4 linked regions of the Homo sapiens genome follow. The protein of the gene in region 2 binds, or shares a complex with, the protein of the main gene of each other region. Each region holds a gene or a part of one and is shown on either strand. Other genes may lie near its edges. A codon is read from its position in the direction of its gene.

Region 1 (7,534 bases), on a different chromosome or scaffold from region 2:
TTCACACTACACATGGCACCTGCATCACACAGTCAGCCAGACGCCAGTTGTAACTGATTAGAAGCTATGAAATGGGCGCATTCTGGGGAAAAAAATCAGGACAGACTTTTCCAACTAGCCTTAACTAAAGATTCCACCTAAAACATTTCCCGGAGCTGAATCTACCATTTGCACTGTGGATATAAATGTTTCTCAACAGCCCTGGCCTCGGACTGGTAATAAGCACGCTGACAGGCATGCGCCTGTGGAAGGAAGACAAAAATCCAGAAATTTCTTCCTGCAGCTAGACACACAGAGAGGGTAAACAAACACACTGAGTTGATTAACAAATAAGAATCCTTCAGATTTGGACTTTGGCATGAGAACTGTGTCCAGATTTAAAACCGCATGGCAATCTGAAGCAGTCACATAGCATTTCCTGTGATGTCCCTGTCATTCCAATTCTACTTGTATTTATATAAAGTCATACATTTCAATTAATGTTGCAGCCATTAAAAAAACCCCTGGCTCCCACGTGACAGCCAAGGAAGGCATGCGTTTCCTAGGACAGGTGACTGAGTTCATGTGTGACAGCACCAGCCAGCATTCCCTGAGTGAAGATGGACTCGAAAAACCAGGGGCTTCTAACGCATCCTTCTTTCCTGGTTAACGAACAGCTTTTCGGTGTCTATACACAAACTTTTCAGAATGCATGTAGAGTCTCCAGTAAACAGAAGAGTACACAGGATGCTCAGAGGGAAAAGAACTATATATGGATCCTAAGTTTTTTTTTTTTTTGAGACGGAGTTTCACTCTTATCACCCAGGCTGGAGTGCAGTGGCATGATCTCAGCTCACTGCAACCTCTGCCTTCTGAGTTCAAGCGATTCTCCTGCCTCAGCCTCCCAAGTAGCCGGGATTATAGGTGCCTGCCACCATGCCTGCCTAATTTTTTTTGTATTTTTAGTAGAGACGGGGTTTCACCATGTTGGCCAGGCTGGTCTTGAATTCCTCACCTCAGGCGATTCACCCACCTCAGCCTCCCAAAGTGCTGGGATTACAGGCGTGAGTCACCATGCCTGGCCGGATTATGAGATTCTTAATAACTACCTAAGACAAATAGCTTGATTGTAAAATTGTCACAGATAAGTTCTTAAACCTGTAAACTAGAGTACTTAAAAAAATTCCACATTGCCATTCTTGGTAGCAAAATCTTCATCACCAAGGAGACCTGGCTAGTGCTACAGCTTGGGAAGGAAACAGCCTGTGCTCAGTAATTCTACTAATTACAGCTGGGCTCCAATGACATTAATTTACTGATAACCTCATAAAGTTTTGTTTGTTCTTCCAAGAGATAACATTAGCCAGGCCACTCAAAATAACGTTAAAATTACAGGACTTTGGACTTTCGGCAGAACATGAATAGTTTTCTCGGTAAACAAGGAAGGTCTTTATATGTGATCGTGACATAGTGTTTTATTTACACAAGCTTTAGAGGGTTCAGCCTCTGGACACTAGTAAAGAACGTTTATTTATTTGGTTATTTATGTAAAAAATATTCCACAACCCAGCTCTCTGCCTTGCTAACAAAGAAATGTTTGTTTCTTAGTAAATGAAAACAGTGAAGGCCATGTCAAGCCAAATGGAGAGAATAAAATTACTGCGAGATTCTGCTTTCCACGTAACTTCAGCCAAAACTCTAAAGTGGCAAGATCCGCTTTCAGATTATATTATATCGGCCTCTGAGGATTCTATGCAGATCTGCCACCCCTTGGAGAGGTTTACAAATAGGGAACAGAAATCCATGGCTCCCAAGAAGCCCTGGCCCCTCTCCTCGCTGGGCCACGAACCACTCCCCCAGCTACAACAGCGCCGGTGGTCCCTGCTTGCCCAGTGCCAGCGCCAAAGAGGTCTTGTGCGGCAGGTGCCTCTGACCAACATCACTGTTTCCGGGGAAAGGCCACACATACCAGAAACAACTGCTCCGGCCTTCCCAGGGACACTGGGTTCTCCCACGCCAGTAACCTATTCACAGTTTCCGTTAAAAGGTAGCTAAATACACGGAATAATGCAATAGCCAAAGCGGTTTAGAAGGGGCTTGAGTTAGCATTTTAGGAACACATTACAGACAAGGGAAGTGAACAGCACCGTTTCTTGCCGAGTGTGTGGCCAGTTCCTGTGGCCATGAGGCTGCCGCTAATCTCCACTTCTCCCTCCAAGTGGAAAGCCAAACGTGTTCCACCACTTCACCAAGGGACCCGTCCTTCTTTAAATTTCTATTAGCCAAAAGTGCCAAGTTAACAAGCAAACCAAAAGAAAAAAGAAAAAAAGCGATGGAAGTGTCCCGAAAAGGGCTGGCCTCATTTCTGCAAAAGACGTGATTTGCAAACAAGCAACTGCTGCAGGCGACAGATTGTCAGTGTTGACTAATTTCCATACAAACCGGCTGTGGTTCTGATTCCCGAACACTGCGTCTTCTGCAAGGTGCCCGTCTGCAGGTTTTGCAACGCGGGACGGCCTAGGGAAGGGAGCCTGCGCTGGCAGTCACCGCGGCGCACAGCCTGAGAAACGAGGTGCGGGGCTGGGGAACCCCGCGTCCTGTTTTTCCTTCTGAAAACTAGTTCTCCAGTGTGCAGGGCTGACTCACCCCACGCTTTCCAGAATGCCCGCTCTCCGACGTCCCCAAAGCCGTCCCTTCCCCGGCGAGAAGCGCAACACCGGTCCGCGCCCTCCGCCTCCCCTGTGCCCTGGGGCCTCCCGCCTGGAACCGGGGCGGCCCGCGTTCAAGGGCAGCGGATCTGTGCGCCCGCGGCGCCCGCCCCCACCCGCTCCCACCCGCTCCCACCCGCTCCCCTCCTCTCCCCTAGAGGACACCGGCTGGCCAGGGGAAGGGAGCTCGGCCGGGACCCCTGGACCTACTCACCCAGGAGCAGCCAGAGGCCGCGCCGCGGGAGGCGGCACAGGGCCCGGGCCATGGTGCACAGCGGTGCCGAGTCGAGTCCGCTCGCCACGCGCCCCGCTGAGGACTGAGCCCGCCGCGGCGCGGGCCCGGAGGAGACGCGCCGGGGGCGGGAGCGGGCGCGGGAGCGGTGGGAGGCGGCGGCCGCGCGGCCCGGCCCACTGCGGCTCCCCGCGTGGGTGCCAGGGCCGGGGGCGCCCAGGGCCGGTAAAACTTTGCAGGGGGGCCGCGCGGGCGTCTCCAGGCCCCTCCCGGGGGGCGGCACACTTGGGGTCCCAGGAAGGCCTCCTGAAATGTTCTCCGAGCAAATAAACACTTTTTAAACTAGGGAGGGTCTCCTAGACGACTCAGCGTGAGGGGCACCTTGGTCTCCACCTGGGGATCTTCCCCTCCTCCTCCTCCGAGGTTCTGGGCGTTCCTGCCTGGTGTTTGCCTTGCAAAAGGCTAAGATCTCCCAGCCTTATCTACCTCTCCGCCCAGGTGCAGGCGCTGGGGAGCGTGGGGGGCAAAACTCGCCACCGCGCCTGGCGAGACCCGTAGTAACCCAAAATGGCGCACACTTACCAGGCCCTGGAATGCTGCTCCAGATCTGCAGGATGAGTGGGTGGGCAGAGGCGGGGACAGCACGGCAGGTGAACAGAAGCCGTGGGGCTGGAGGAACAGGGCTCTTTGGGGGGATTGAGATGGCCTGGGAGTCTTGCTGTTGATGGGTAGGTAGCGAGAGCCTGGCAGGAGGTTGTGAGGGCCTGGCCACAGAGTCTTGAGATGAGGTTTGCTTTGGTGGCACTCTGGCAGCTGCATGGAAAACTGATGGGGGATCTTGGGTACATTCGTTTATGTAAAGTGGTGAGAGGAGGGCGCTCTGGAGATGGGCCGGGGAAGCCTGCGGAGGAGCAGGTTTTGGGAGGCACAGGCCTGGCCTCTCGGCATTACTGGTGGCTGGATTTCACTTGCAGTGGTTCCTTCTTGTATTATCCTGTTCCGAGAACTCTTAGCAACAGTAAATTTATACTTGTGCTAAGGAATGCACCACTGCCCTTGGAGGGGGAAGAATCACCACCCTGGTGCTGCGGCCACAGCTGTCTCTTTTGTGGTGGAAGCTGCAAGCGCACAGCATTGCTGAGTGACCATCGTTTTCTCCTAGGAAAGGGAACAGTCTGTGGCTGAGAGGCTGCTGCCACCTGCAGTAAGCTCAGAGAAGGGGAGACAGCTGACAGCGAGGTCATCCACTGGTTCTTCTAACACAGGCTGGGAGGGCACTCAGGGCCAGCATGCCTACCACCTGTGCAGGGGCCCCAAGTGTTCTGAGAGTGAGGGGTGAGATGGTGGGGGAGGGCACACATTCTCTTGACTTGATTAGCCCTTGTTCTTGAACCCTAGGAGATACACCCCATTGGGTGGCCTGGCATCCCTACTTTCTTCATTTAACAGACATTTGTGTCCCTATGTGCAAGACACTGTTAGATCGACAAGCCCTGCCCTTCAATTGGTGAATCTAGGGGGTGACCTCTAAGACTCTCAATAACATGAGCGCCACAATACAGGAGCCACCCGGAACAAGGGACACTCGCCTCAGCTGCAGTGCAAGTAAGGAGACAAAGGATTCTGGACAAAATGCAGCCCAGGCAGTCCTGAGGGCTGGGTGGAGAGAAGGGCACAAGGGAAATGCAGGCCCGAGCACAGGCCTGGCAGCCAGAGGCCGTGCCATGTGAGAGCAGCACAGCTAGTGGGGAAGGGTGGCTGCCAGCACAGCCCTGGGACAGGGCCACCGTACATCCTGCACTAGGCGATGGCCAGTCATAGTGGGGGAGAAGAACCTGCATCTTTCTGCAGCCATCACTCGCCCTCCATATCCAGGGACTCTGGCTTGAGCCACCCTTTCTACTTGTAGCTTGTGGACTTTGGCTGCATGTTTTTGGTTGGCAACTGGGACTCCTCTTTCATCAGGCTCAGCAGGAGTCTTTCTTCCCAACGTTTTCTCTTTGAAGCTTGACTGCAAGGAGGCAAGGCCAGAGGCCCCTGTCACTGCTGTTTTCTCAACACCCCCTAAAGGATACATTTTCCTAAGAAGACAAAGCCTATTTCTCAAGTTCACATGCTTTAGAAATTCACAGTTCTCTGGAGAATGCTGAAGTAAGGCACACACCTAGAGGCATGTTCTCTCCTAATGATTTTCCTGTCTGTACCTTGGGTCTAAGTAAGACATTCCTTAGCAACTACTATGGGCTTCCCGTCTTCAAAAGTTGTAGTCTGATGTATCTGTATTTCTAATTGGTCATAGGTAGCATGGAAAATCATTCCTCTCCCAGGGTACCTCAATCTAGAGGGGCATTAGGTTAAACAATAGAAGAGATTAGAAAATGGCCAAGTGCTTTACTGCATACACAGTAGGGCTAAAGATACAATCAAAGCCTGGTCAACACTGCTAAAAATTCACTATTAACATAAGATTCCTGCTTCCAGCCGAGATGAAGTTACAGGGACTGGACTCACCTTCCCATCTTAAACTAAAAAACTGGACAAAATGTATGAAACAACAGTTGTCACAGTGGACCACAAGAAGTGCAGGGACCCCTGAGAGCAGGGAAACAAATAAGGTGAGTGCTACAACTGCTCACTGCCTGGAGTTTGCAGACCACAGATGGAGAAAGGAAACCCAAAGAGAGTCTGGGGAAGCCAGGCAGTTAACGCTGGCAGGGCATAGTACCAGAGAGGAAAGAGCTGCGCAAAGAATGCGCTTGCGAGATCACAGAGGGTCCCACTTGAGTCTCAGCCCACACATCTAAGGACACTACCCAAGGGAAAAGAGCCTAAGAGCCCACACCCAGCTGGGAATAGTTCCAGTTCCCACCAACCATAGTGGAAAAATCTTGAAATACACAGAACATCAGAGCATAATTAGAAGGGCAAGTCCCTCTCTGTAGTCAGTAAAAATTACAAAGGCTATTCTGGTGCTGCCTAACAAAACTTAAAAGCAAGAACTAACAGGAGCAAATGATTTCCAAGTAGCTATTACATCCCGTAACTTAAAAACAATAAAAGAACAAAGCATCAGAGAGCCATGAGGCAACTCCAGGTGGCAACTCTAAGGTGTAACTGGAGCCCCTGGAGGAAGATGGGTGGGAAATATGTGAAAAACCACTATGTGGAACATTTTCTATTAACCCATGAGCCAAGAACATCCCCAAACTCCAAGCACAAAAATCATTTAGAAAAATATGTGAAAGCACATCACGATCAAATTGCCTAAAGCCAGTAATAAAGAGAAAACCTTAAAAGCAGCCAGAGAGAGAAGACATTACGTATAGCAGGGGTCCCCCAACCCCACAGGAGTACCAGATCATGGCCTGTTAGGAACCTGGCCTCACAGCAGGAGGTGAGCAGCGGGTGAGCTAGTGAAGCTGAGGTCCGCATCTTGTTAGATCAGCAGTAGCTGATCTAACCCTACCGTGAACTGTTCATGCAAGGGATCTAGGTTGCACTTCTTATGAGAATGATGATCTGAGGTGGAACCGTTTCATCCCTAAACCATCCCCCTCTCACCCCATGGAAAAATTGTCTTCCACAAAACCAGTCCCTGGTGCCAAAAAGGCTAGGGACTGCTGATGTACAAAACACAGGTAAGGGTGACAGAAGAGTTCTCATGGGATATAATGCCACCAGAATACAATGGAACGTTTTTAAGTACTGGAAGGAAAAAAGCATCAAATATTCTACAGATAGTTTTTCAATAACTTGCTGATATGAAGGGGAAGACTCCACTGGTGTCCTCACTATCAGGCCTGCAATTTAAAGGCTGAACTTCAATCATTATCAATAATGAATCAGTGGTTCTGAAGATAACATGCTTATAAGCAATAACAACTTAGTTCTGTGAGTTGTTTAAATCGTGCAATTGCTGGATAAACACTAACAAAAACAGCAGTATCTCAGGGAACTCAGGTTCATCAACTATCAATTTTTCAAGTCCTGCAGGAAGTCCCACTGTTAAAACCAACACACTTGCAAGTAGCTGAGAACAGAAGTTGCCTATCTCCCCTATTCCCCCAAGAAACAAAACAAACAAAAAACAAGAAGTGAAAAATAAATTCTATATAAAACTGTCCTCAGCATTACTTGGAGAATTTTCCAACTGCAAAGGAGCTGAGTAACAGGGAAAAAATTCCCACCAAATCCCACTACACAACTCACACTCCTATACTACCCTCAGCCAGCCACATGCTTAGTGTGAGCAAAGGCAGACTGAGAAAAATCGTGGAGCCAAGAGGGAGGCTGATGAACAGGCCTACGGGTGATATGAAACAATCTCCAGAAAGACGAACTCTTAACACTCTAGACGTGAAAAATTTAAAATACCCCAATACCATAGAGACAAACAAGAGACAAGTCCATCTAGAGCTACTGCAGAAAACCGGGACATGAAATGTCAGACATACAAACTGAAGGAACCCCTAACCTCTAGGAGACTATATTACAAATGTGTAACATAGCCACCCTGGGTGGATCAGGAATAAAAGACATAACCTAAGCACATTTAGACAAAAGAGCAAAAGACAAAAGAACTGTACACAAATGACGTACTCCAGTTAGTAAATCT
Region 2 (7,668 bases):
TATATTTTTAATTTACTTGGTTCGTGGCTTTGAGCGAGTTCATTAATCTAATGGGTCCTCAATTTCCTCATACATAAAATAATGATAATAGCTTGTAACTCACAAGGCTACTCTTAGCTTAAAACATATTTTTTGTAAAAGTACTAGATTATCATTGGCACCGGGTATATGGTAGTTAGTGTGCCAAGGGGAATGATGCTATTTTCCTCTTTCTCCTCTTTCAAAAGGGTACGTATTTGTACTTTACACAGTATACAGGTCTTAAGCAAAAGGAGATGAAATTGTATGTTTCATCAAGTATTATTTTCAACATCTCTTAAAGCTGGAGTTCATTTACTAAAACATTTTCTGGATGGGCAGATCAATTTCAAACTCAATAGCTTGTTTTCTGGATAAAAAATGTTTTTCCGAGAAGCTGTTACGGTCTAAATATCTAACATCAAATATTAAAATATTTTTCTTCTAATTGTAAGATCAAGTTATACATATATATGTATGTTTATACATATATGTTTCTTTTTTTTAAAGAAAAAACTATTTGACCAGCGATATAACAAACAACATTTATTTTTATCAAAAGCCTCCCACATCAATGAGTTCTACCAAGTCTGGTGGAAACCCTCTTGGTCAGTGGCTCTCAATCCTGGTTGCATATTACAATCACCTAAAGAAATACATCAAATTGCAGACCCTTTCCACAGATATTCTGATTTGATTGAATTGGGGTAAGGCTGAGCATCCGTATTTTTTGAAAGTTCTCCTATTAACCCTAATTTGCAGCCCGAGTTGAGAATACTGATTTAGATTATCATTGAAACCATTACCGGTCTCCTATTTCCATTTCACTAGGACTCTAATAAAAACCAACAGTAGATAATATTTCCATTCATGTTAACATTGACAGAGTCTGAGAGGTTCATCAAGAACAGAATTGCCATGGCACAACTAAACTAATAGTTAGCTCCCTTTCTTCAACTGATTAGAGCAAATGCTCTCCATCCACCATCAATCATTACCTCCAGTTTCAAAATGAGAAACAGAAGACGTATTTATATCAGCTATTTCTTTTTAACTTTGAGAATCATGAAACAAAACAACTCCAAGATTATCTATGTGTTCTTATAAACTGGTTATAATGAAGATTTCTTGTTTACTTATTGTGTTGATGTAGCCAATGAATAAACTTAGAACATTTTATAATATGACCAGATATTATTCTTGGGCTATAGTTCATAAAATAAACTACAGGTTAGAGGCATTGAACCAGAACAAATCCTGGCTGATGGATGTTTTGAGTTATGTTAAAATATTGAGTAGAAATGAGTATCCACTGAGAATACCAACTTAAACTGTAAAGGTTTTACAAATCTAATCATCTTAGTTTCTCTCATAATACTGGTGTATAACCAGCAATCTCAACTTTTTAAAGCTGAGTTATTTTACTACTGAACTCATAGGCTAGCAATATCCTATTAGAAATTACACTTTATAAATTCCATAATACTAAAAGCATTCCTACTTTGTCCTTAATGGTAAGTCAACTGGCCCAAATACATAAAATATTTGCTTTCTATGATCATTTAAGACAGACTTAAACTCGGACGCTCTGTAATTTAAAGATTAGCTTTAAGAACTACATTGTAAAACTTTGACTTATTTTGAACATTTCACCTTCAATCACCGAATAATTTCAACAAATAGCCTTACATAGATAACTTGATTCCGGTTAACCACAGCCTGGAAATAGTCAGGGTCTCCTTAAGATCGGCAAGTGAAACCCTGCGTTCTCTTCTTGCATATGTCACATAGTATTAGGTTAAAGCTTTCATATGAAACTTTTCTTAGGTAGATTTGCCAAATAAAGTCTGTATGATAGTTTACTAATCTCAATTGTATTGTTGATTTTTGACTTGGACCTCAAGGAAAATGAATGTTTTGAGAAAAGGAATTAATTTGTTACAGCTTTTCTTGATGTCTTTCACCCAGGCTTGGGAAGAGCATCATGAAAAAGAGTACTCTTTTGGAAACTATGCACACAACATATTTTTCCTAATAGGTGTGAAGAATGGCTGCTATGCATAAATGATTGTTGGAAAACTATTCTCTGTAAAACATGACTTAACAAGCAACTCCATTCACTACTGTGCTCATTTCCAATATCCAGAACAACCATGACACATCTTATAGATGCTGATATTATATGTTTGTCAGTTAATAAACACCCTTTGGGAAAATTCACAACTTTAACCTCCGTAATTTTCCTACCCAATAAGTTGGAGAATAAAACTTTTGAGGGAAAATTGATATGAACAACATAGTAAAAGTCACAAGAAATCAAACGATTCTTCAATACGAAACCATAAGTTGTTGGCTCTTCCCAGGACACCTATTTTTCTTTTTTCTTTGACAAGGGTAAAGTAAAGCATCTAAGACCTAGCTGACCCTACATGAGAACCACAAGCACCGCAATCAAACCACATTTCTATAATCAAAAAGCAAGGTGCCTATAGCACCTGCACTGTTAAACATCCCTTGGACACCCCAAATCGTTAAGTCCCGCTCATTTCCAAACGCTCCTTACCTGGAATTCTGTCACTGGGCGGCTGGGCACAGCTCAATAGAAGCAAAGGGTGTTCGCAGGTGTGGCTCCAGGGACTCAGGCGCTCAAGCTTCAGCGCCCATCTCCTGGGCAGGAGATGTCAGCCGCAGGGTGAGGTGCGGACGTGCGCACTTCTCCAACCCGGGAAGGTCCGCCAGCCGCGCGGCGCAGCCCACCCAGACGCTGGTGGGCTGGCTTTCCTAGTTTGATGCGAGAGCAAACTGCGTTAGTCTCAGTCCTCCCTCTCCGCCCCTCTCCTGGTTTTCTGACACTTTAAATCTGTCTTAGGTGGTTCAGACCCAAGTCTAGGTTGTATTATCAGCTAAAAGACAACTGTTCTTTCCCCTGGCTTGCTTTCTACCTCCCCAGAGTCCAGGAGGCTCACCTTCCCGGCGCCTTCCTGCGCTCTCCCAGCTGTGAAGCTGTGCGCAAACTTCTCCTGACTTAAGAGTCTCAATCCTAGCCTGCGCTCCCGCCCCACCCCCGCCCGCCTCCCGACAGGCGGCAGAGGAGGTGGCAGCAGAATTGATGAGAGCCAGCCCCCCTTCCCGGACCCCGCCACCCCAGTCAGCCCCCTCCTGTCCCAGGAGAGGGAGGGGCGAGCTGGTGAGCTCCGTGCGCCTCGCGCCAGCCCCAGTCGCCCCGGCCCGCGAGTGGGGCTGCGCTCGCGGCTGCTGTCTCGCTCCAGTCAGGGCTGGGGCTCACCCTGCGAGTCCGGGAGACTAAAGCGCCGCGTAAACACAGGAAGCAGGCGAGGGACCCGAGTTAGACCTTGAGTAGGGAGGGAGAGGGGGGCGACAGTCTGGACTGGGAGACAGCTTTCTGGGAGCCCTGTCCCCTCCCCGGAGAATGCAAATTCCGGAGGGAGGTGAGTTTCCACAAGAACCTTATCCCAGAGACATTGTGACCCTGGCTTCTTCAGCCGCCACTCCGGGGACAGCACTAGGGAGCCTGTGGAGGGAGGGTCGGTAGTGGGCTAGGTAGTGAAAGTGGGGTGAGGACGTGGGAAGACGGCTGGCTAAGAGCTGGGGTGCTAAAAGGAAAAAAGTGCTGAGAGGAAGGAGATGAGAAGAGACACCTTGGGGGTCAGGCAAGCCCTGGGAAAGCGTCCGGAGTTGGGCGGCTGTAGGCTGGAGGCATAACTTGGATTTGGAGAAAGAGTGCCCTCCGTGTAGGGGACTGCTGGTGGGCACAGTGTTTTAGGGTGAATGAAAACAGAGAGGATGGCGAGGGAAGACGGGGATATGGGGTGCCTGACTTGGTGCCGGACACTGCGACTCCTCTTCTTTCCCCCTAAAGCCCTCGATGTCAGCAGGAGTCCGGGACAATCCAATACCAGGCGGGGCGCAGCGGAGGCTGGCAGGCACGCCCTGGGAGGCAGGCAAGTTGATTCCAAGGACGAGTCACCCTCAACCTCTTTTAGCCCACAACTGGGTGGATCAAGGCAGGAGCCAACACTTTTTTCCCTAACTCTGTTTAGGCGGTGTTGGACTAAGAAAACAGCATCCGGTGCGTCCCGGGACCACAAGGTGGCCGTGCACCGTCGAGGTTACTAAACACTGTCTCCTTGGCAAAAGAAATAATAGCAATCATTTAATGGGAGGGGAAGAAAGCCAGACGGCGACAGCACACTTTCCCTGGTGATCTTAGGTTCTCATAAGCACACGGGACAACACCGGGTGACAGAGAAGGAGGTGTCCTGTGAATGGAACTGCAGCCCTCACCCAACCATCCTTGGAGCTCTTCCATGGAAACATCAGTGACTGTAGGCAAAAAATGTCCCCGTTTTATTTTGCATGCTCCTGTTTTATTTTGAATCCTCATACCCCACCCCAGAGAGACAACAGGGACCCCTAATTTGTGTGGTTGAGGCTTTCAGGAGATCCAGTGGAGGACAGACTCAAGGATCAGATCAGCTCTCCCACCCAACATTCCAGGGATTTTGTTTTTCCAGGCTCCCTCCTCTATATACTCCCCCCTTCCCTGTCACCTCCAGTCTGGTGACCCAGAGGGCTGTGTGTGACTCACTGTGCATTCAAACCCTAAGGCACTGCCTCACTGCAGAGGAAGATTGTACAGTCCCTTCATTCCCAGGATAAGTGAGAATGATGTTGTTAGCAGTAAGAAATGTGACTAGGAAAGGAGGCTGGGCAACTGGGAGACAAGGAGGCTTTGAAAGGAACATACACACACACACACACACACACACACACACACACACACACACACACACACACACACACACAGACACAGTAACTTAAACAAAGCCTGTATAAGAAACCCTTCCGAATTCAGAACTTAGATAGGAATCTTCACTCCGTGCTGGGTTGGGCTCAATCTGTCTTGAGTTCAATAGCTCCCTGCTTTCCAACTGCTCCTGACCAGCCAACACTTGACCATGACCTCCTTTAAGAATTCTCTTTTGGAATATTAATTACCTTCTTTTGGTGCAAACAGCAGAGAAATATTAAAGTTGTTTGAGAGTCTCCTATGGTCAACTGCTGGGGCCAAACATTGAGAATTTCTCAGGTTGTAGCCCAAGTCACTGAAATAACAATGATTCAGGGAGACTATTGCTGAGTAGAAAGTGTTGCCGCCCTCGGCATTGTGTGATAGAACAAGTACAAGGAGATTTTTCCGCTGGAGGTTAAATCCTAGGGCAGCCTACCTGATATTGATAACCAGTATTCTGAGAGCAGGATGGGCTTGATTCTATAAATCTAATGAATATATGTGGGATGCAGCCCTTAACCATAATGTAAACAAAGTCTAAAAGTTATTGAGAAAAATGGCATGGGTGTATCATAAAACTTTAAACTGTTTGTGGTCTAAGCATAAGCAACCTCAGCTGATTAAAGTGTGAACTGTGTTAGATACAATATTGGGGGAAACAATGAGAGTTCTCTGTAGGCAGAATATTTCAGGGAAGGTGACACAGCAGAAGCAAGATCAGGGATGAAGCTCTCTTGTCCCCTAAGAAGATTAAATTGACTTTGTCAGTAACAGATATTTATTGAACACCAAAGGGGTTATGTACCTGTTGGAAACACTTGGATTTTACAGAAATTTAAGTCTACTGCTTTCTTAATATTATCACAGTATTTCCTACATGGACACAGTGTGGTAAGTTTTTGGAGGGTGGATGTTAACATGGGGATGGTCTGATAAGGGGAATTGGCATTGTTTTGAAAATGTTATGAGACCCATTACTGGATCTTGAAATCAAGTTAGTGGGCATAAGTAACATTTAAAAAATGAAGTGGAATAGGATAGAAAATATCAGAGTTCATCGCCATTTGAAAGCACAAGAGTGGTTTCTTGAAACTTGTCTTATTTCTCTCTCTCTCTCTATCTCTGTGTATGAAATTGCAAAGTAAAATGTATTTCTTTCTGTAGATCACAAAAATACCTAAAGACACTGGGTTAGAATAAGCTATTCTTCAAGTGGAATACCTTATATTTGCAAATAAGCTTTCAAATGAAATTAGTTCATCAAAGGGGCATTCATAAAATAAGCATCTTAAAATGTGGTAGTCACACATTCCTGGTACTTTTATTGATTATTTATTTTAAAATCCCCTGTCTTTATGATACTTTGCCCCTTTCTCTCTGTCCCTCTTCCTCTTTAGAAAATTTCCCCTTTGGACAGTTACTAATTTAGGGAGAAGTATTCTGTGGATCTTGTCTACAGACTTTTCAATGCAAACTCCACTTCAATTATGAAACCCTCCATCTACATTGCTGAGGGTGTGAAGTTCTGCCACTAGCAAAGGATTATCTGACCTCTCAACTCTGTCTTTCCAAGCAAGGTTTGCCAGAGTTTGAACCATACATACCACTTTCTGGACACTTATGGTTCGAGAATTCAGTGACTTTTCCTTAAAAATCACTAAAGTTTTGAATTTCAGTGAATGGAGGGAAGATTGCCCATTATTAAAGACTAGCTCTATTAATACCTATTCCTGTTAAATATGGTTAATGTGAGGGAGGTCACACTTTGTAGAGACTGAAAAAAGTCATTTAGTTCTTCTTGGAAAAAAATTGTTGTAAGGTTAAATAGAGTTTATTCTTTTTTTAACAGGAATTTAGAGAAAAAATTTCTGGACTCTCTCAGGAATCCAATGGTTAACTTGAATAGCTCCCTATCAGCAAAGTTTTCCTTACATTGAAATCCAGCTCAATCCGTTATGCTTATGTGTTGGTAATTTAGTACATATTTAACACCACATAATTTCACAACACCCTTGGCTAGCCGCTTATGGGGGACCCAAAAAGCACAATATGCAGCTCCTACCCTCAAGAAGCCCACAGTCTATTCAAGAACATTTGTTTCTTCCTCTTGTAGTCTCCTTCCAAATAGACAACAGCTGGTAATTATTCTTTATATAATTACTCTTCCTAGATTTACAGGCCTCACCATGACAGGGCAAATAATAATTTGCCTTAGTGAAAAATAAATGTTTTCCTTTGAAAACAATTCGAACTTTGACCTGATAAATCATGCTCTCTTGAAGGAAGTGTCCTGCTTCGATTTTCCACCTGTCTTTCAGAAACAGGAGCTGGGGTACTTGTAAGTCTCTCTTCTCTCCTCATCTTTCCAAGGGTGTGACACGGCTGTGTTTCTCTAGAGAACGTGTCTTTTGGCATGGAAAAAACAAATTCCACTTGAACTAGGAAGTGTCTTTCCAGATTGTACTTACATAAACTTCACTTTGGTTAACTGTTAACTTAATGTGTAAATAACTCAGAGTAGGAGGAGATGGCAGGGACTTACACCATAAAGCAGCAGTGGAAACTAATTGCTCCATCTCTGATGAAGTTCAGAAATATCCATTTCTTATATTTTAAATAAAATTCTAAAGGGAAACCCAGGAGCCAGAAAAAATACTGCAGAAGCAAATGTACGCAGACATTCATTCATTAATTCATTCAACAAATAATGAAAAATTGCGGCCTCAAAGCTTATATTCTAGTGGGAAGAGGGAGATAGGTAACAAACAAAATAAGAAGTAAATTGTTAATTTCAGATACTGACAATGTTAAAATATCATTAACAGGGAACTGAGAGG
Region 3 (7,245 bases), on a different chromosome or scaffold from region 2:
TGTAAAAGTTAAAATTAGTTTCCACAGAAACATTGATTTCAAAGCAAACACTATCTTAATGAGCCTAACTCTGGTAAATTAAAAATATAAATGGCACTATTAAGAGAGGCCAAGGAAACAATACGTAATATTTAGCAGGATCTCTAATATTCTAATTTCAGAAGTGTTAAACTGTGTAACAGTTACAGGACCTATCTTTCATAGGCAAAAACAGATCCGTGCCTCAGTTTCCACATTTATGAAATGTGGCTGAAAAATTATTTTAAGATCATTGTAGTTCTCTAATTCACTTAATTTTTATGTCATTAAGATGGAGTAAAAAGAGGATTTGGGGCATTATTAGGTTTCCTCTTTTGTGGGGAGGCATTATTTGGTGAGAATCACCATTTAAAAATGCAAAATATTGTGTCACTGGCTTAAGCTGCAGATTCCTAGGCCAGAGGCAATCAATACATCATGATGTAATGTAGTCATATAGACTAGGACACTTAGATTAGCCCCCGTGACGCAAGGCGTGTTCTGAGTAACAGTCTCAAATTAAGTGGAGACTTTGTGATCACTGCACAAAAGGTGTTGGAAATTTTAAGATATCATTAGCATCACACTTGACTTAAAGTAGTACTGAGATAGCATTCACAGAAAAGATTCTAGACTTTTCCAGATTTATACTTTGAAATCAAGTTATACGCATACTAATATCCCAACAGCATAATTCTGCCTTTAAAAGTTTTAGACAAGACAGCAACACATGTACCATTTAATTACTGAAATTGCAAATGCATAAACACCAAAGACACTTATTTTGACTTAATTAGTAATTTTCTGCTTTTATAAATCTGGACCCAGGAGAACAAAGTCATGACCTATGCAAAAAGAGCAAACCAAAAGCCACCAAAGGAAAATAAATAAGAACAGCCTTTTATTATTTTCTTTATACTCAAGCTGTTTTGTTGAAATGTGACCACGAACTAGGTCTTAACCTAGCAAATTCACAAATTTATTCAGATAGCCAAATTATCAAGGAAGTGGAAAACTTCCATTTTTAATTAATGCTGTGTAATTCTTTTGGTCATTTCATTACATTTTTTTCCCCCAAAACAGCACCTTAAGAAAAAAAAGGAGGAAAGGCCATCTCCTTATAGTTAACCTTTTTTTATTTTATTATTATTTTTTTAATCAGAGGAAAAATCGCAATCAAAAAAAGAAAACCCAAAACCAAACAACTAAATGTCACTTGATAAACAACTAATTAATGTCTTTTTATCTCTTCCCACCTGGAGGAAAAGTCTCCTTAGAGCACTCTCAATCCCCCCTCCCACCTTGAGGAGGACAAAAAAAAAAAAAAAAAAAAAAAGAAACCACGCCATTTCCAGACCAAGAAGCCATTTACAGACAAATGTCATTCTCCAGTTTTATCTGATTTGTGAATGTCTTTGTTTTTTCTTTTCACAAAGCACTCTCAATGTGGCCAGCCAGCAGGAAAATGTGTTTTTTTTAATGGTTTATTAAAATAGTGTTGGGGGGGCGCTGCTCGTGGTGGGTGGGGGGGGCAGCTGCTACAATTAATTCTCCGCTCTGCTTTTGAAAAAGCCTGCAAGTCTGGAAGGGGAAAAAAAGGTCACACTGTAAAATGACGTGTCATTTGGCTTCACTGGGCACTTCTCGTACTAACTCTATCCATTTTTTGGTGTTGGGGGGTGGTCTTATTTTATTTGACTCTCCTTCTCCTCCTTCCACGGCCCGGCCTGGCCCGGGACACGTCTGCTCCGCGCACACACAGTCAGTCGGTCCTGCCCGAAACGCACCAAGTCGCGCCCAGCGGCAACCGCCCTCCCTCCTCCCCTCGCCGCCCCCCTCCCGACTCCGGCGCCACGACTCCCTTGCGCCCCCTCCCCCCCACTGCACCACCTTTACCGCTCCGATCCTTTCCGAGGGGCTGATGTCACCAGCCCCCCCACTCTCCTCGGCCACTTCTCCCCGCCAAAGCCTCCCTTTGGCGAGGCCCCCTCCGCCACCACGGCGCCCCCCAGCGTCACCCCCTCCTCTCCTCGCCCCTTTCTTCCCCTCTTTCCCTCTCCCAACAAATCTCACACCCCACGGAGGCGGGTCCCCCTCCCTCTACCCGCCACCCGGTTTCCTGTCCCCGAAACCCTCTTTTTGTCGCAGTCTCCGGAGCCCCATGGGCTCCCCCTCCCCCTCCCCAACACGCACCCAAACCCCTGGCGTCGTGTAGGCCTCGCGGAAAAAGAGAGAAAGAGAGAAAGAGGGGGAGAGCGAGAGCGAGAGCAAGAGAGAGACACTGAGCGGGCAGGCCGGGGGAGGGGGACCCGCGCCCGCGTCGCCACGGCCCCCCGCCCCGTTTTTGAGCCCCCGCCCGGCCGAATCCGCGCCCCTGGGTCCCCCTTCCGGCCTCGCCCCCCACAGACAGAGCCCGCGAACGGGCGGGGGGCTCGGGAGCGCGCGCCCGGGGCGGGGGGCGGGCTCGGCGCGCGCGGCCTGCGGGGCGCCCTTCGAGGGCCCCCGGGCCGGGGCCGGCGCCCCCCGCCCGCCCTTACCCAGCAGCAGCAGGCGGTGCGTGGCCCGGTAGACCTGCTTGTCCTTCTGCAGCTGCTTCTCGATCTTTTTGTTGGCCTCACGCTGCGCCTTCTCCTCGTTGCGCTGGTCCTCGGTCTTACTGTTCCCGAGGCAGCCCATGGCGGCGGCGGCGGCGGCGGGGCGCGGCCGGGCTGCGGCGGCGGCGGGCGCGGGCGGCCTCACGCGGGCCGGGAGGGCCGGGGCAGCGCCGGGCGGGCGGGCCGGGCGCGGGCTCGGCTCCTCGGCAAGGAGCGCGCGGGGCGGACTGCGGGCCGCGGGCCGCGGGGCGCGCGGACGGGCGGGAAGGGGAGGGTGTCGGTCGGACCGAGGGGCGCGCGCAGCTCCCCGCCCCTCGAGCCGAGGCCGAGGGGGCTGATGGCCGCCGCCGGGCCGAGGCGGACCAGAGCAGGAGCTGCGGGAGCTGCTGCCGCCGCTGCCGCCGCCGCCGCTCTTATTGCCTCGGCCGGGCCCCCGCCGCCGCCCCGAGCCAAAAGCGCCGCGGCGGGCGGGGGGAGGCGGGGGGAGGAGGAGGCGGCGGCGGCGAGGGGGGTGGAAGGAGGAGGAGGAGGAGGAGGGCCGAGGAGCGGCCGCGGCGGCGGCGGCGGCTGGGAGGGCGGGAGCCGGCGGAGGGAGGCGGCCCCCCGGGAGCCCGGGGAGGGGGTCCCTCCGCCCGCGCCCGGCCGGGGACGGGACGGGCCGGGGAGACGCCCCCCACCCCCCGGGCTCGGGCAGCAGCCCGGCTGAGCCGAGGGGGGAGAGGGGGCGTCTCCGCGCCAGTGACGACCCCTCGCACGACGCCAACGCTCCACCCCCCGGACCGCGTCGCCCGGCGCCCCCGAGGCCTCCTCCCCCTCCCGCGGGCGCCGCCGAGGGGCTGGGGTGGGCGGAAGGGGAGGGAGCGCGCGCCCGGACTTAGGAAAATTTTCGAAAGAGCGAGAGACACAGAGAGCCAGAGAGCAGGAGTGTGGAAAAAGCGAGGCGAGCACGAACCAAAGGACAGAGCAACCGAAAAGGAAAATGTGTCCACACACACACACGAACACGAATAAAAACCCACACTACACAGCGATGGTGGTGTCTGGTGGCGGTGGCGGGGTGGGGGGTCTGACTAGATGAGCCGCTCCTCGCGCCCCCGGCGCCGGGCGCCATGGCCCGAGCCGAAGGCGCCTCTGGCCCCGGAGCGCCCGCGGCCTCTGCGCTTGGCGCGGCCGCCCAAGTAGGAGAAGAAGGCGCAGCCCAGGAACACTCGGAAGCAGCAGGTCGCCCCGAACACGAAGCCGCAGCCGCGGCCCTGCTCCGTGCGCTTCTGCAGCAGGAAGTTGAGCACCCACGAGGGGCTGCGCACCGAGAAGACCAGGAACACCACGAGGGGCAGGTGGGCGCTCAGCGCGCCAGCCTTGAGCGGCCCGGGCCGCCACACGATGCCCCCAACGCGCGGCGCCGCGTAGTAGGCGTCGTCCTCGTCGCTCGAGTCCGTGTCCCAGTCAGCCCAGGCCCTACTCGTGCCCCCGGCGGCGGCGCCCTCCTCGGCGCCCCCGACGGCGCCCTCCTCGGCGCCCTCGTCGTCGTCGGCGGCGGCCGCGGCGGCGGCGGCCTCGGGGCATCGGGCCTCCTCCTGGGCTTCTGGCACCTTCTTCTTCTTCTTCTTCAGCATCTTCTCCATCTTCTTCCTCTCCTTCTCCTTCTTCTTCTCCTCCTTTCGCCTCTGCTCCAGCAGCTTCTTCTCGAGCTTCTTGCGCTCCTTGTCTGTTAGGAACTTTTCGGGGAGCGCCTCCCGCGCCGGGTTCTTGGGGTTCTTCGCGAGCTTCTCGGGGTCCCCGCTCTTCCGCGGCGCGAGCGGCTCTCTCGGCTCGGCCAACGCCGCAGCCGCCGCCGCAGCTTCGGCAGCCACCTCGGCAGCCGCCGCGGCCGTCTTCTTCTCGCTCTCCGCCGCCCGGGCTTTGAGCTTCATGGCCATCTTCAGCATGGTGGCCCGGCCACCTCGGGGAGCTCGGCTCGCGCCTGGCCCGGGCTCCCTGCTTGCCCCCGGCCTCGGGCTGCCCGGCCCCCGTGCGCCCCGTGTCGGGGGGCTTGGCTGCGGTTCCCGCCGCGCTGCCCCGGGGCCGCGGAGCGCGGCTGCCCGGGCTTCGGGCTGCTGGGCTGGCTGCCTAAGAGTTAGCGCCAAAAAGGATGAGCAAACGAAAAAGGGACAAGAACAAACCAAAAAGCACCCAACAACAGCGAGAAACCAAAAAGCACCAAGAAATGTCAACTCAAAAAGAAAAGTGCAAAGGCGCGGATGGCAGGAGTCTGTTTACCCTCAGGCGCTCCTTGGTTTGGCTCTTGGGCACGCCAATGGAGAAGAGAAAAGAGAGAGAATTGGGGGGTGCCCGGAGGCGCCCCGGGGCAAGGCAGCGGCGCCCGGGCGCCCCTGCCTTGTCCCGGACCCGGCGGCTCTTGCCTGCGCCGGGCGACTCGCACTTCCGCGGGAGGCCCCGGCGCTCCCCGACTTACATGTGAGTGAGGTGCACTCACACGCAAGGCAGCGCCTGCCGGCCGCCCGCCGCCGCCCCGCGCCGGGACAGGGGCTCGCTCCAGCCGCCGCGCCGCAGCCCGGAGCCAGAGAGCAGGGGAGCGCCGCGCCGGCCAGCCACCTGACGCAGCCCGCTCCGCGGTGCCGACGCGACTGAGTGTCCCCGCCGGGGAGCAGAGCTTCTAACCGGCCCCGATGACGCCCCAGCCTCTTCAGAGGACCGACCCATAGCAGCGGCCCCTATAAACCGAAGGGGAAGCGCGAAAAATCGGCCCACCGGGGACGCACCCAAATGGGCCGCCGCGCACCCTGGGGGTGCAGGCCGGTGCCGGGACCGCGCGGGCGTGGGCCGGGGGCGCGGGGGCCGCGATGGCGGGGGGCGCGGGCGCGCCCAAGGCGGTGGGCGCTCAACCCCGCCTCCCAGACCTGCCTCCCAATTTTCGGTGAGTGGTGTAGCCCTGGGCGGCGTGCAAAGTGTGCGACGGCGGCGCTTACCCCTGCTGTGCGCCTCCTTACCTCCAGCCACCCACCCCGCCCTCCCAGCGGCGCGCGCCCGCCGAGGTAGGTGTCAGAGAGCCGAATTCGAATTATTTGCGACGCCCGGACGGAGTTTCGTATCTTCGGACGAGAAAAGTGCGATGGGAGTGCAAAGCCTCCCCTGCTCGAAGCAGCAGGCGCGCCGGTGTCACGGGAGCCGAGGAGCGGTGGCCGTGGCTGTGGAGTCGGTGCTCGAGGCGTCCTCCCAGGTGGGAGAGGTGGCGGCCTTGCCTGGGCGCCCTGGGGGCTCTGGAACAGAGGGAAAAGTAGTTTACGGAACGTGAACTTGTTTGAGGGTTCTTTCAAAACTCTCAAGTGTCCCGCCGCACACTAGGATATAGCAGTGCACGGGATTAGGAGCAGGGTTACTAAATTTTCAAGCAGTTGACCCCAGCCCGCCTTTCCTGGGACCTTGGTTAGGTCATCTGCTGCCACCATGGTGTCTGCTGGGATACGGTTTATTCATTCAATAAATGTTTGGTGCCTGCCAGTTCCGCGGCTCACCATGTGCCCAGGTGAGCCGAGGCGGCCAGGTAATCAGGCTAAGACGTGAGCAGTGTCTTGGATGGGACACAGGCCTACGTCCCGGAAAGCCCAGATATGCAAAGTCCACAAACTGTCTTCCAACTTTTTCTTTGACTTCTTAACAGAGCCCATGAAACTTAAGATGTTTGATGGAGAAGGAGAAAAAAGAAAAGTCTACCTATAAATGGAAACACATTTAACAGTCCCCAGGGGTATGGGGCGGCTGATACCACCAGAGGCCTTGAGCAAACTTGTATCATTTTAAGTTAGCTTTGAAAATAAAAAGACACTGTTAGCCATTCAACCGGATGACTGAAATTCCCCCCTTTTCCCCAGTTTGCTCCACTTCGAGTAAGAAAAGGTGTGACAGATGAAGATGCCACATATTATTTTTCTTGGCCCCTTCAGGTACACTGCTGCCCCCATTGTACAAGGCCTCTTTTTTATGAATCTGAAAAGACAACAGAGGGCGATTCAAAGTCACCAAACAACACTTGGAATTAAGAACAGGAAGCGCAGCCTAGACACCGTCCTGCCCTGGGCTGCTGCAGACCCCTGACTTTCTTGAACTTGGCTGAAAAGTTGGGGCCAGGTTTTTGTCACACTCCTGATCATGGATGGCCTCTCTTCCACACAAAAATACACCTTATTTTGAAAATGCTCAAAGGAACTATCCTAGGTTGATGCTTTTCACCTAACCAAAGATGCATAAAAATATTGTGCAGATACACCTGAATGTGCTCATAGGAGAACTCAGCAGTAAGGCCTCAGAATCGATGATTCCTAGGCTGCCTGTACTAGTGATAGTGAGGCTCACTACCATCCACCACCTAAATTAGAACCGCTTGATGACACAGCACAGGTTCTATATCTTTAGATGGTAAATTAAAAATTCCTGGCTGAATTTGATTGATTGTCATTTTTAAAAATTGTTAAAGACTTGTAAGAGGGAAGAATAGGCCAGACATTTTTGTTATGCTCCATTTGTTCAAAAGCATCTTCCTTCCTGCTTCTACTGTGGCAAAGCACAGATACATTGTCTTTAAGAGGTACAAGGTAAATAGTAACAAATACAACCTAGATACTTATGCCAGGAG
Region 4 (6,958 bases), about 48 Mb from region 2:
TCCATTTTGGTTGGTTTCATTGGGAAACAAAGAACATGCCGGCCTGTGTTTCTTTTGTCTCAGGGACTTCCAGACGCCACTGAGAGATGATAAACAGCCAAACAGATGCATTTCCGCCAGAAAGGGCTTTTGTGGCTAGTCATTTGGAAATGAAACACAGGCGCTCTCCCCCTCCTTGACAGAAAGAGCATCGACGAGACTGGCAAGTGGCTGCCATGGGCCACGGTCAGTCGACCTTGGGAGGCTGTGGATTCTGGGCGGTTCTGCCCCTGGTCTCTGTGGTTGGGCAACTTCCTCTCTAACCTCCAGATTTCTGTTTCCTTATGAAGAATAGGTAAGAGCATGGAGGTCAGATAACCTCCAAGGAACCTCCAGTGCCAAAAATCTATGGGCCTCTTCTTGGCCAATCACCACCTTCAAGTCTTTTTTTTTTTTTTTTTTTTTTTTTTTTTTTTTTTTTTTTTGAGGCAGAGTCTCGCTTTGTCACCAGGCTGGAGTGCAATAGCATGATCTCGGCTCACTGCAATCTCCGCCTTCCAGGTTCAAGCGATTCCTCTGCCTCAGCCTCCTGAGTAGCTGAGACTACAGGTATGCACCACCACACCCGGCTAATATTTTGTATTTTTAGTAGAGACGGAGTTTCACCATGTTGGCCAGGATGGTCTCGATCTCCTGACCTCGAGATCTGCCCGCCTTGGCCTCCCAAAGTGCTGGGATTACAGGCGTGAGCCACCGCACCCGGCCGGCCACCTCCAAGTCTTTAATTCACCAGAGTTACTGCTATCCAACCATGGCCCTTGGGCCCACTTGATTCAGTAGAATCAATATGACCACAGGTAACATGGCAGCAGGACATCATTTAATGATAAAAACGATGGTACCATGTTCATACGCTTGCACACACAGGCACACACACTATGGTGCTCCATCTTTGGGTGCTGTGAGTGAGCCTCATGAGGCCCAGTGCAGTCACTGGTGGGTGCCTTCCCATACCTCCCCTTGTTTAAGCATGAACCCTTCCACCCCACAATCCCATGCCCAACACAAGGTGATAGGGACTAAACTGAATGGAATCAAACTGACGGTCTCAGCAGCCCTTTACAGATTGCTATTATTACATCTACATTGCAGCTCGGAAACTGAGGCCAGTGAGTGCTTTATAATCTTGGGATCATGATCAGGATTTTCACCCAGACCAGAAGAGTCCAGTCAAGAGCTGGGCACCACAGCAAAGTGTCCTGCTGAGTAGACAACTGCTGGACTTCGCATCCCCACAGCCCCACACAGCATCAAATGCTTTCTGGAAAAAGGTCTGGAATTCTCAAAGAAGCCCCAGAGGCCTGCACCCTCCCTGCTGGTCCTCCTGAGCTAGTCCTCAGTCAAGAGGAACCCACCCAGCTCCTTCCTTCCAGACACAGCAGCATCCAGGGCAGATGTGGGTTCCAGTCCCGGATACCTCTGACACATCGGCCTGGGACCATGAGCAAGTTTTACCTCTCCCTGAATCTCACTCTGGCCAGTCGAACACTGGGAGGGTCTGCTGAGAAGCTGGACCTGGTCCCTATTCTGGCCAGGGAGCGTGAACCCATGTCCCATTGGAGGGGGACAGTCAGGACCAACACAACAGGACAAAGAAGTGGCCCTCAGGAACTGGGTCCACGAGAGACAGGATTATTAAGGGGGGATTCTGTGCAGGCGGAAGCCTGTGGTCCTTCTCAATTTGATACTGGAGATGATCAGGAAAGCCTCAGCTTCTCCCAGAATGAATTGAGAGGACCTTCCTTCCACTATAGCGACCAAGATCTCCACCTAAGGGGCGCTCACTGGAAGTTTGCTGAAATCCCAAATCAGCATGCTCCTGATTTCAGAAGCTGCCATCCACCTTTGCACTTCAACACAAAATCCACCACATCCTAGGCTCCAGCCCTGGAACACCAAATGAAGCCACACAAGTTCTGCACACCAAGACCTCTTCAATGGAAGGAAAATGACCACTGAGTTTGGTCCACCCTTTTCCCACCTCCCGTACCAAATCCCAAATCATCAAAACAGGCCCAACTCTGCATCTTACAGCCAGGGAAACTGGGGACCACCAGGCCAGGGCCCTCCATCACCAATGTCCCCCCCAGAACTGGCCAGGCTCAGTCACCACTCAGTGGACCCCAGCCCTCAGCAAGCACTCTTCCCCAACAGCCTTTACACACATTCTCTCTCTCTCTCTCTCTCTTACTTTTTCTTGGATAATTTCTTTAGCAAGGTACTTCAAAACAAGCTTTTAGTTTAATCTATTTCCATTTTGTGAGCAATGGTTCTTCCTAGAGTCCTGATTTCTTGCCGAAGAAGGCATTAGGAGAGGATGGCTCAGAGAGTCGCCCCGCTTCCCCTCTCAGCCAGTTCCAGGACACACACAGGCGTCCACACACTGAGGGGCCCTGGGAGGACCAGCTACCCAGTCCGGAGTCCACCCGCCCACGCCCCTGTGAGTGGTGGGCAGGCACTCAATGCCAGGACAGAGAGCTCACTACCTTACAGACAGCCCACCCTGGGGGATAAGGGGTAAAGAGCCAGACCTGGTCCACCTCTTCTCGCCCACCCTGAGGCGACCCCAGAACCGGGGCGTGGGGGGACATCACAACTAGAAGGACCGGGGGCTGCCGGACCCTGCCGTCAGAAGACCCCGGAGGGGGCCCTGTGCCTCCCTTGCCCGCCAGAGTCCTTCGCCTTCAGCTTCTCCCGGGTGGAACCCTCCCGCAGAGCCTGGGAATCCCGCCAGGGTCACTGTGCGCCCCTCCCGAGCTCCGGGGCAAGGGAAGGACCGCGGCGCAGGTGCGGGAAGGCGCGGGTCCACCCGGGTCCGGTGAACCCCGAGGAGTGGGGGCGCCCCCGGTGCGGGCCGTCGCCCCCTTACCGCAGAGCAGCAGCAGCAACGGGAGAAGTTGCGGGCGCCGCAGCGCTCCAGTCTCCATGGCTGGCCGGCCGCAGCTGGGTCACGCTCGGTCCCGCTGGGGGCGCGGCTGGGGGACGCCCGGTTGGGGTTGGGGTGGGGCGGGGCCTCAGGGGGTCCGCCCTCAGGCCGCACCCCCAGACCACGCCTGCGGCCGTGCCCCGTTGCCTCCAGATGTGGGGTGCAGTCCCTGCAGGCGCGCCGGGTGGGAGGGATGGGGGCGGCTGGAGTCTCAGCGGGGTGAGAGGGGGGCGAGGGCAGGGTTTCGAGCTGGGGACAAGCTGGGGTAAGGTGGGGTGCCGGCTGATGGGCTCTGAGGGCGGGGCTGGGGTGCTGAGCTGCAAAGGAGCTTTTTGGGAGCAGATTGTAGGGGCAGACTGGGAGGTGAGCTGGGGTGAGCGTGGGGGCCGGCTGACGGTGGGCTGGGATGCAGGCTGGAGAGACTTGGGGAACTTCCGTCCAGGCTCAGGGGCAGAGGGTGGGGGTAGACCGGGGAGGGAGCTGAGGTGAGGATGAAGCGCTGGCTGATGATGGCCTAGAGGAGTCTGGGGGTAGACTGGAGGAAGGTGGACCTGGGAGTGGGCTAGGTGTGCCCTGGCCGAAAGTAGACCAGAGTCCAGAGCTGCCCCCAGGCAGGGAGGGGAACTTTGAGCAGAGATACATCTAGGAGCCAGGTCTCCAAAGGTCAGGAAAGTGCATAAAAGAGGTTGGGGGGTGTGTGTGTGTGCGTCTGTGTGTGTGCGTGTGTGTGTTGTTCATGGAGTACGTGTGTGTGATGTGCATGTGGGGTGTGTGTAGATGCATGTGTGTGCATGGAGTGTGTGATGTATGGTGTGTGTGTGGCATGTGTGTGTTTGAGTCTGAGACAAGGTGTGTTTGTGAGTGTATGCTTGGGAAACAGTGTGTATGAGAGAGACTGGAGGGTGTGGCAACTACACACACAGAGACGTATCACACACCAAGAACCAAGCCACAAGCAAACCAAGGGACAGGAGAGTATCTGGCACCACCAAAGACCTGGCCTTGAAGAGTGTCAGGGTCCCTGAGGCGAAGGAGGGCCTCAGTTTCTCCAGCCACAGGTCACTTGGCCAGATGGGTCACCTCTGTCACCCTCAGCCCCTAGCACAGGCCCTGGCTCCAGTGGACACTTAATGGTGTCTTAAGAATTGTCACTGGTCAGGACTTCCGAGAGCCAGCTAGAGGCACCTCTCTGCCCTCCAGGGCCCACCCACCACCCCTGGGGGCACATGCTGGTCTGAGGTTGGGGCACAGGCCCAGGCTCCTACATGGATGGGCCCTCCACTCCTCTGAGCCGTAGGTACTGCTACCTTCCCAGGAGCTGAGCTGAACTTCTCCTGGCTTAGAAAGACCCACTTTATTTAACAAGACCCTTATTCGGGAGAAGAACTTTCTGTGCTTTTTTACTGAAGAAATTCTGATTACAGCCAGAATTAATTCAAAGGAGTCAAAACTAATTAAAATTGATCATTTGTCCTGCCTTCTGCCTGAGGGGTGGGCAGCAGGTGTAGGGGTGGCCACAGAGCCTCTAGTGAGACTGATGGTGCCCACAGCCAGGCCTTCTGCCCACAGGCCAGGGGTCATAAAACAAGCTGACCAGGGCAGCAGGGGGCTGGCTTACACACACGCACACCCTACACCAGCCAAGACAAACCAAGAGGATGGTCCAGGCCCAGGTGTCCACCCACATCCCACACAGACTCGGCCCTACAGCTCTCTCCAGGAGAGTCTTAGTCTCCACTCGGTCCCACAGCCCCAAAGGCGGTTGCACATAGCTTGCAGGCTGGAACAGTAGGATGGGGTTGTCAGGTGGGAGGGGGGCAGCCAGTTCCCCCAAGCCTGCACCAGGGAGCAATGCTCCCTTTCCTGGACTCCCCACCCTGGCTCTGCAGTGGGGAAGCCCTGGCCATTCTACAGAGTTGGGTTCCAACACCTCTCCTCCATGGAACCAACCATGCCCCAACAAACTCCCAGGGAGTTGTGTCTACTGCCCCTAGGTCCCTCTAAGGCAGGGCCCTCACTTCTCCTCTCTGTGCCCAGTGGTGCCCATGGCCTCTGCAGGGCAGGTGGGTTTAACACAGGCTGTGAGGAGCTGAGCCATGGGAGAGAGGGACCTGCCCCTTCCACGGTGCATCCCCCCGACCCTGAGTGTGGAAAGGCTGCCGCCATAAATGAGATTGACCATGGGGTGTGCCCTGGACAGCACCTGTCTCCCTGCTTGTCCCTCGGTGGGTGCTGGCCCCGGCACCATTCCCTGTGTCTGCGATCCTGTGTGCACTGGGGTCCTCTCAGGAATCCCCTCTTAGCGTTCATAATTATTTATTTATTTTATTTATTTATTTATTTATTTATTTATATTTTTTTTAGAAGGAGTTTCATTGTTATTGCCCAGGCTGGAGTGCAATGGCATGATCTTGGCTCACTGCAACCTCTGCCTCCGGGGCTCAAGAAATTATCTTGCCTCAGCCTCCCGAGTAGCTGGGATTACAGGCTTGTGCTACCATGCCCGGCTAATTTTTGTATTTTTAGTAGAGACGGGGTTTCTCCATGTTGGTCAGGCTGGTCGCGAACTCCCGACCTCAGGTGATCCTCCTGCCTCGACCTCCCACAGTGCTGGGATTACAGGCGTGAGCCACCGCGCCCGGCCGGTTCATAATTCTTTACACCAAACTTCCCCATTCAGGTTGCGGTGTAGTCTCTCTCCTGATCAAGCCCTGATTCACCATTATCATGATATTTATTCTGTGATTCCTCTTATTCTTAAATAGTTGTAAGAGAACATTTTCTTGACACTCAAGTGGCCTCTTCTAAGAGGAAGAAATAACATCCTGGTGTTTCTACCAGATCAGGGGAACACATGGCCGCTGGGCCTTCACTCTCCCTGGAAGTAATGCTTCTGCCCGGAGTCCACGTGTCCAGGCAAGGGCCTGAGCACAGAACCTGGTGAGGTTTGGGATCTGGTTCTGCTTGCTCTGGGGCTAGACTTCAGGAGGGTGGGGGTTGAGAAGGAGCCAAGGGAAGCCATTCCCGGGCACCTGGCTCCCCCTGCTGGACAGACACTGAAATAACGGTATCATTGTCGATGAGACTACGCCTCTGTCCCTGAGGCAGCAGCAACGCCTCGGTGACCCCTCTCCAGGGACACAGAGGACCGGTCTTCAAAGAAGGGTGATGAAGGAGATTCCAGGAAGGGGTGCCTCTGACCCTCAGCTGTTTTCCACCTTCCCACGGATCAAGACACAGCCTTCCATCTCCTGTTGCGTTTGTTTGCTCATTTGTTTAATTGCAATAAAAAATACTTAACGTCAAATCAAGCATTTTAGGATGGGTGTGGTGACTTATGCCTGTAATCCCAGCACTTTGAGATGCCGAGGTGGGCTAACTGCTTGAGCTTAGGAGTTCTAGACCAGCCTGGGCAACATGGTGAAACCCCGCCTCTACAAAAAAAATACAAAAATTAGCCGTGTGTGGTGAGGTGCGCCTGTAGTCTCAGATACTGTGGAGGCTGAGATGAATTTCCTTTTTTTTTTTTTTGAGACATAGTTTTGCTCTTGTCACTCAGGAGTGCAATGGTGCCATCCCGGCTCACTGCAACCTCCACCTCCTGGATTCAAGCGATTCTCCTGCCTCAGCCTCACAAGTAGCTGGGATTACAGGCCCTCCCACCACGCCCAGCTAAATTTTGTATTTTTGGTAGAGATGGGGTTTCACCATGTTTGCCAGGCTGGTCTCGAACTCCTGACCTCAGGTGATGCGCCCACCTCAGCCTCCCGAAGTGCTGGGATTATAGGTGTGAAGCACTGCGCCCGGCCTCCTTCCTTCTTAAGGCTGAATAATATTCTGTTGTGTGGATAGACCACATTTCATTTACCCATTCATCTGCCATTCATTTCCTTTTTTAAGTCAATGAAGCAAGTTTACTTTCATTTTATTTTATTTTTGAAAAACCTATCAGAAAATGTCTTGAGGAAAATACATTAAAATGTTATCTGTGGT

Evidence for each region.
Region 1: the proteins of CALCR (region 2) and RAMP1 are in contact, whole or in part, in a cryo-EM structure (PDB 9AUC), measured with the Homo sapiens proteins. Residues at the interface, in NP_001158210.1 of Homo sapiens: Arg45, Lys46, Met49, Asp50, Gln52, Tyr53, Tyr56, Asp57, Met59, Gln60, Gln61, Thr75, Trp76, Asp77, Gly78, Asn124, Arg126, Phe235, Leu238, Ile242, Thr246, Val250, Ala251, Gln257, Arg258, Trp261, Tyr262, Leu265, Phe269, Ile276; in NP_005846.1 of Homo sapiens: Trp59, Ile63, Tyr66, Arg67, Ala70, Asp71, Phe83, Trp84, Pro85, Val89, Asp90, Phe93, Leu94, His97, Gly98, Phe101, Ser103, Arg109, Ala110, Val111, Arg112, Asp113, Pro114, Ile118, Leu119, Phe122, Ile123, Pro126, Ile127, Val129.
Region 3: the proteins of CALCR (region 2) and GNAS are in contact, whole or in part, in a cryo-EM structure (PDB 7TYY), measured with the Homo sapiens proteins. Residues at the interface, in NP_001158210.1 of Homo sapiens: Arg180, His184, Glu240, Tyr243, Leu244, Leu247, Ile248, Val249, Val250, Ala251, Val252, Phe253, Glu255, Lys256, Ile319, Val322, Leu323, Lys326, Met327, Glu329, Thr330, Lys340, Lys343, Ala344, Ile347, Leu348, Leu351, Tyr391, Asn395, Asn396; in NP_000507.1 of Homo sapiens: Lys34 (codon at 2,595), Gln35 (codon at 2,592), Arg38 (codon at 2,583), Ala39 (codon at 2,580), His41 (codon at 2,574), Val217, Phe219, Tyr358, Phe376, Cys379, Arg380, Asp381, Ile383, Gln384, Arg385, His387, Leu388, Gln390, Tyr391, Glu392, Leu393, Leu394.
Region 4: the proteins of CALCR (region 2) and RAMP3 are in contact, whole or in part, in a cryo-EM structure (PDB 8F0K), measured with the Homo sapiens proteins. Residues at the interface, in NP_001158210.1 of Homo sapiens: Arg45, Lys46, Met49, Asp50, Gln52, Tyr53, Lys54, Tyr56, Asp57, Met59, Gln60, Arg74, Thr75, Trp76, Asp77, Gly78, Asn124, Arg126, Phe235, Leu238, Ile242, Thr246, Gln257, Arg258, Trp261, Tyr262, Leu264, Leu265, Phe269, Ile276; in NP_005847.1 of Homo sapiens: Cys57, Leu59, Ile63, Tyr66, Glu67, Thr70, Tyr83, Trp84, Pro85, Gln90, Ile93, Thr94, His97, Arg98, Phe101, Ser102, Cys104, Val106, His110, Leu111, Glu112, Asp113, Pro114, Val118, Leu119, Leu122, Ile123, Pro126, Val127, Leu129.

Annotation. Positions count from the first base shown.
Region 1 is NC_000002.12:237,855,095-237,862,628, reverse strand, and holds the start of RAMP1 (receptor activity-modifying protein 1 isoform 1 precursor), read right to left. Parts: upstream 3,007-7,534; 5' UTR 2,954-3,006; coding exon 2,902-2,953; intron 2,733-2,901; exon of another isoform or gene 2,422-2,732; intron 1-2,421. UniProt on the Homo sapiens protein: Accessory protein that interacts with and modulates the function of G-protein coupled receptors including calcitonin gene-related peptide type 1 receptor (CALCRL) and calcitonin receptor (CALCR). Required for the transport of CALCRL to the plasma membrane.
Region 2 is NC_000007.14:93,571,708-93,579,375, forward strand, and holds the start of CALCR (calcitonin receptor isoform 2 precursor), read right to left. Parts: upstream 3,018-7,668; 5' UTR 2,985-3,017; intron 2,800-2,984; 5' UTR 2,582-2,799; intron 1-2,581. UniProt on the Homo sapiens protein: G protein-coupled receptor activated by ligand peptides amylin (IAPP), calcitonin (CT/CALCA) and calcitonin gene-related peptide type 1 (CGRP1/CALCA).
Region 3 is NC_000020.11:58,887,176-58,894,420, reverse strand, and holds the start of GNAS (protein GNAS), read right to left. Parts: upstream 3,001-7,245; 5' UTR 2,695-3,000; coding exon 2,556-2,694; intron 2,259-2,555; exon of another isoform or gene 1,915-2,258; intron 1-1,914. UniProt on the Homo sapiens protein: Guanine nucleotide-binding proteins (G proteins) function as transducers in numerous signaling pathways controlled by G protein-coupled receptors (GPCRs).
Region 4 is NC_000007.14:45,153,837-45,160,794, reverse strand, and holds the start of RAMP3 (receptor activity-modifying protein 3 precursor), read right to left. Parts: upstream 3,005-6,958; 5' UTR 2,967-3,004; coding exon 2,909-2,966; intron 1-2,908. UniProt on the Homo sapiens protein: Accessory protein that interacts with and modulates the function of G-protein coupled receptors including calcitonin gene-related peptide type 1 receptor (CALCRL), calcitonin receptor (CALCR) and G-protein coupled estrogen receptor 1 (GPER1).